2 separate regions of the Homo sapiens genome follow, and region 2 is linked to region 1. The links come from fine-mapping of genetic effects on gene expression. Tissue or cell type: whole blood. Region 1 holds a variant in brackets; the other region holds the start of a gene. All regions are shown on one strand. Distances are from middle to middle.

Region 1 (2,901 bases):
TTATTTTTTATTGTAACACACTTGTCAAAATGTCATCGCATTAGCTCACCTCTCCCACATCCACCCACCAATTCCTCTCAGCTGTAGAAGAAAGAGCAGTAATTAGAGCAGGAAACAGCCCCTGGATGAAGAACTGCTCCAGCCTGACAGTTCATCCGAGACTTCGGCAAAGCCGCTCTGGCCTGGCTCCGGGAGGAGAGGAGATGGGGTCACTAAGTCCATGCTAGGCAAGCCACCTAAGCCTCCTTCCAGGCAGGGACAGCAGATGGAAACTGTGTCCCAGAAGCCAACTCTGCTGCTCTGTCCGTGCTGACATTCAGGAACTGTGACAATTAATCACACATAACAAAGTGTACTTTTGTCTTACACAATTCAACCCAACTCCTACTGCAAATGAGTTTGACCTATCCTGCCTTCCTGTTTGAGCTGTCCCTTAGCCGAGATGGGAGAAGCCCCCAAAGCCCCCAAAGGGAGTCCTATTGGCCAGTGAACTCCTAGGGGATTTAGAAATGAAGTGGAATTTTTTATCTTCTCTAGAAACAAACACAGATGCTCCAGCACTTATGATAGGGTCATGTCCAGACAAACCCATTTTAAGTCAACAATATCATAAGTTAAAAAATGTACTTAATGCTGGTGACATAGCTGATGATCCCCGACTTACGATTTTCTGACATTACAATGGGTTTATCAGGACATAACCCCACCATAAGTGGAAGACTGACTTACAATGGGGTTACAGTTTCTTTTCTTTCCTATTTTTATTTTTTAAGATGATCTCTCTCTGTTGCCCAGGCTGGAGTGCAGTGGTACTATCTCAGCTCACTTCAACCTCTACCTACTAGGTTCAAGCAATTCTCCTGCCTCAGCCCCCCGAGTAACTGGGATAACAGGCATGCACCATCATGCCCAGCTAATTTTTCCATTTTTTTTAGTAAAGATGGGGTTTCACCATGTTGGCCAGGCTGGTCTCAAACTCCTGGCCTCAAGAGAGCCCCCCACCTTGGCCTCTCGGAAGTGCTGGGTTTACAGGCGTGAGGCACTATGCCTGGCCAGGGTTACAGATTTCTACTGGAAGTATATGGCTTTTGCACCATCATAAAGTCAAAAACTCTAAAGTCAAACCATCCCAAGTTGAGGAATGTCCGTATTTGAATGGATAAACAATATATAGTATATCCATAC[G/A]ACGGAATATTAGTCTGCCTTAAGAAGAAAAAAAAAATCGGCCAGGTGCGGTGGCTCGCACCTGTAATCCCAGCACTTTGGGAGGCTGAGGCGGGCGGATCACGAAGTCAAGAGATCGAGACCATCCTGGCTAACATGGTGAAACCCTGTCTCTACTAAATATACAAAAAATTAGCCGGGCATACTGGCGTGCGCCTGTAGTCCCAGCTACTTGGGAGGCTGAGGCAGGAGAATGGCGTGAACCCAGGAGGCAGAGCTTGCAGTGAGCCAAGATTGCGCCACTGCACTCCAGCCTGGGCAACAGAGCGAGACTCCGCCTCAAAAAAAAAAAAAAAAGAAAGAAAAAGAAAAGAAAAAAAATCTAAACACATACCAAAACATGGATGAGCCTGGATGATGTTAAGTGACATGCCAGACACAAAGGACAAATATTCTATGATTCCAGTTATACGAGGTACCTAGATGTAGTCACCATGTCTTATTTTCTGTATGCTGATGCTTTCACATCTGGGGCCTTCCTGACCCTGGAGGGGCTGCCAATTCCTAGAGATAGTGAACAACTTGCTCATGAGTGTGCCTTTTTAATGCAAACCCACCAATTCAGAGCCCACATCCCAAATCCCTCCCGTATCGGGCTCTCAAGCTCCAGGCCACTATCCACCTGCCGTGACCACCCCAGGACCAGTCTGAGAAGCTGTCATAGCCAGAGGAGTCCATGGAGACATGACAGCTGTGAGGCAGTATGGGATCCTGGGACAGAAAAAGGATGGCAGGAAAAAACTACAGCTTTGCAAATGGAGAACTATCATGTTAATGTATGAAAAGTACCATGCTAATGTAAGGTGTTAACAACAGAGGAAGTGGGGTGTGGGTATGTCAGAATTCCTCATACTCTACTCACCACTGCTCCAAATAAGAAGTGTACTAAAAAGGGGGAAGGGAACAGCTGTGTGACATAATAAAAATACATATTTGGTCTTTGTCCCTGGTTCCTGGCACAGAGCTCCTAAATCCCTGGTAATTTTCTGAGTGATAGCGGGGCTAGGAGTATCTTTTGTTCTGATATTTGGTCTTTGATTGAGGTTCCCAACACAGAGCTCCTAATCCCTTGGTATTTGCTGGGTGATGGAAACCTTTTTTCTGTGCTGATGAAGTGACTCTGGTGGCTCCTGGATGAAGGCTGGTCACCAGAAAGACCTAGCCATGACCAGAAACTTGGAGTTTTCAGCTCCATACCCCATCCTCCAAAGAGGGCAGAGGGGCTGGATATTGTGTTGATAACCAATCATGCCTGTGTGAAGAAGCCTCCATAAAAATCCCTACAAGTTGGAGTTTGGGGAGATTCTGGCTGGTGGATGCATCCACCCACCTGGAGAGGGTACATCTAACTCCACAGAGACGGAAGCCCCTGTGCTCAGGACCCTTCCAGACCTCGCCCTATGTACCTCTCCATCTGGCTGCTTGCCTGTATCTTTTATCATGCCCTCCACTAATATAATAAACCAGATTTGCAGCCACGCCACACAGAAGTTCCAGGTAACCTGAAGACACCTCTTGCAACTGGCCTCTGAAGTGAAGGCAGCCTGATGAGATTGAGCCCTTAACCTGCAGGGTCCATACTAGCTCCACATGGAAGGGGTCAGAACTGAACTGAATACCCAGTTGGCATCTGCAAACAACTGGAGAATTGCTTGGTGTGGCAAAACCCCACACACA
Region 2 (2,901 bases), 100 kb after region 1:
GCGAAGGCCCTAAAATGCGGCTGTACCAAAAATAATAATAATAAATATAAATGACCCCCGTGGGAATGCAACCCTGCCTGGGAGCCCAGGAGAAGACCTTGGCTTCTGGTTAGACACTGCCAAGTCCAAAAGGGCTGGGTCAAAAGGCTCCTGGGGCCTCCAGATTAACTCCTTCCAGACTACTAGAAGCATTCCTCCAAACCCCAGTCCCACTCTGCCTTCTGCCCTCCCCTCCTTAGCCACACCGCAGGCAGGAGGCCCGCGGGCTTCCCAGAGCAGCCATCAGAGCCCTGTCAGAAACGTTAAGGGCTAACTTTTCTCTAGGCAGGCCCAGGGTGTGCAGAGGGAGTGTCTGGGGACCCAGAGGAAGAAGGTCCCCGTTTCTAGGGAGACGCAAGGGCGATGCTAAGTTTAAGAGGCAGGGTAACAAGTCCGGCCAAGGAATCGGGGGTGAGCGACGGGACAGGAAGGCGTGCCCACTCCACAGGAGGATGGGACACACGTGAACAAGCGGCGAGCTGCCCAGGGGCCGGATGCCGCCACCAAGCAAGCGAAGTTGGAGGAAGAGCAACAGCGGAGTGGGCCAACGCAGGACCACCCGTGGTCTCCTCCGCACCTCATCACTGCCCCCCACGCCCAAGCACCCACCCACACACTCCCACGTGCCGTGGCCACTTCCGCCGAGACAGATACTCACCTTTGCCGCCGGCGCGGTCCTGCTGGTCGCCAGCTCCCGCAGACTGCCGGCGGTGCTGCCCGCGGCCGCGGAGAGGAAAACCGGGGAACCCGGGGTGCTGCCTGCCGCGCCGCCCCCGCCGCCCGCGAGCGTGGGGGCCGCACTCTGGCCTGGGATGGGACGCGCGGGCGGGCTGCCGCCGGGGCTGGTGCCCGCGCGGGGCCGCTGACGGATGCCGTCCAGCAGTCGCACCAGCAAGATGTTGGCGGGCAGTTCGTCCACGCCGCAGCCCACCAGGATGCGGCACTCGGGGCAGCGCAGCTCGTGGCGCGAGCACACGATGCTCTCCAGGCAGCGGCGGCAGAAAGTGTGTTGGCATGGCAGCACCTTGGCCGTGGTGTCCAGGCGCTCCAGACACACGGAGCACTCCAGCAGGTCCAGCAGCGACGACTCGTCCATGTCCTCGCCCGCCCCCGCGGCGGTGGCCGCCGCCCGACGCCGCCGTCGCTCGCCTGGCCTGTCCTCGTCGCCCTCGCTCTGCGCAGCAGCGGCGGCCGCCTTGGATGCGCACAGCCAGGACGCTCCGAGCAGCATGGGGGAGGCGCCCGCAGCGGTCTCGCGCGGCTGCCTAGGTCCCGGGGCCGGCGTGGAGCCCGCCACCGGCAGCCAGCATCAGGACTGGGGAGCCGGGCTCCGCCGTGACTTTCTTCACCCCGGCTGGTGGCCCGATGCTAGGGCTGTGGCGGTGCGAAGTGGCTCACCGACCGGCCTGCGTGGCGGGGACCGGCCTGCGTGGCGGGGACCGGCCAGCCGAGCCCGCCCAGTCCTGAGCGCAGCGCCTGCGGCTGCGGGCTACACCTGTCCCGCCGCAAGTCCGCCCCGCGCGGGGGACCGGGGGTGCTGCCGGGCACGAAGCTCAACGGGTTCTGTGCTGCAAGCGGCGGCTCGCGCCTGGGAGACCAGCGGCAGGAAGTGCGGGCAGCGGCCGGCCAGGTCCCCGGGGAGGCCGGGGCGCGGCGTGCACGCTCCTCCGCGCAGCTGGCGAGCCGCACCGCCCCCGCGGCACCTCCATGCGCCCCTGGCCTGCTCGCTAGTCGCTGTCCTCCAGAGGATTCAGCAGGACCGTTCCTCTTCCTCGGCCGCGAGCACGTGCGCGGGGGTGCGCGCGGAGGTCACGGTCACTGCGGGGCTCAGGGAAGGAGGCGCCGTGCCTGCAGGACTTCCCTTCGCTTGGGCGCAAGCCGGCGATTAGCCTGGTCCCCTAGGACATCTCCAGGGCTCCGGGGAACCTCTCCTGCGCAGGCTTGGCCCTGCCTCCTCCAAGCGTCCGAGTCTTTTTCGGCTTTTCGTGAGCCTCAGAGAGGGACGTTTCCTGCCAACGCTGCTGCGAAGGAAAGTTTGGGCGGCGTTATCCCGACTGCCTTCCTCGCCAGCGCCGGCGAGCAGCTTGGGGACACAGCCGACGCCCGGGCATCCTCCCCGACGACCCCCCGGAGCGCTCCCAGTTCAGACTCCTTTCCGAGAAGCGCGCAGAAGTGACAGCCCCGGAGCTTCGTTCCGGTGTAGGTGTGGGGATGCGCCGCAAGGCAGGAGGGGAAGGCGCTCCAGTTGAAGGGGGCACCCCGGGGCCCGCGCCGACTCCTCCCGGCGCAGCCTTGGCTCGCCGGAGTCGCGGGTCGGAGGCTGGCGCCGCTGCCCGCCGACCAGCACCCTGGCGCCAGGCGCCCGGCTCCACGCCGCACCCTTGGCGACGCTGTGCGAGGGGCTCTAGCGCCCGCCGCGGCGCAGTCTCGTGAACCCCCGCTCCAATTTTTTCCTACGGAGGCGCAGAGGAGGGTGAATTCGCGCTCTCCTTCCCGACGCCCCGGCTTCTGGGAGCGTCAGAGCAACGGAAGTACGTACAGGAGGACCGAGAGCAGCAGGGAAGTTTGGCGGTGGGCTGGGGTCGGCGGCGAAGATTCCCTGCCGTGCGCTGCCCCCTCGTGGCCGCTTTGCGTTCCCGTCGGGAAGGGCTGGGTTCCAGTCCAGGGCCCAGCACAAACCAGGATTGGTTGGACGCTGCACAGCGAGTTCAGTCAGGGCTAACATCAGAAGAGTCGTGGGGGGCCTGCCTATCGGCCAGCCTGTCCTTGTGGTTTGTGAAGTTGTATGATCTTTCTGTTATTATTAAGGAAAAAAGTAGTATTTGTTGAGGCTAAAAGGCCAAGAGCGTGCTATATATTATT

What was found. PIP is the estimated chance that this variant, and not a neighbour inherited with it, causes the effect.
Region 2: SH3RF3 starts here. The variant in region 1 is fine-mapped to the expression of SH3RF3 in whole blood (INTERVAL, PIP 0.95).

The regions. Positions count from the first base shown.
Region 1 is chr2:109,228,447-109,231,347 of GRCh38, reverse strand. All of the region lies in intron 1 of SH3RF3 (SH3 domain containing ring finger 3), which reads right to left. It also overlaps a transcript of RANBP2 not described here. Among named protein-coding and RNA genes, the nearest start is that of MIR4266, 84 kb to the left of the region's middle. The variant G/A (reference allele first, on the strand shown) is at 1,186.
Region 2 is chr2:109,127,910-109,130,810 of GRCh38, reverse strand. It overlaps SH3RF3 (SH3 domain containing ring finger 3), which reads right to left and starts at 1,606. Exons shown (of 10, transcript NM_001099289.3): 1 at 698-1,606. The coding sequence starts at 1,270. SH3RF3-AS1 (SH3RF3 antisense RNA 1) reads left to right here and starts at 692. Exons shown (of 1, transcript NR_029193.1): 1 at 692-2,901. It also overlaps a transcript of RANBP2 not described here. RefSeq lists silencers at 1,591-1,790, 1,821-1,870, 1,881-1,950, 2,331-2,390.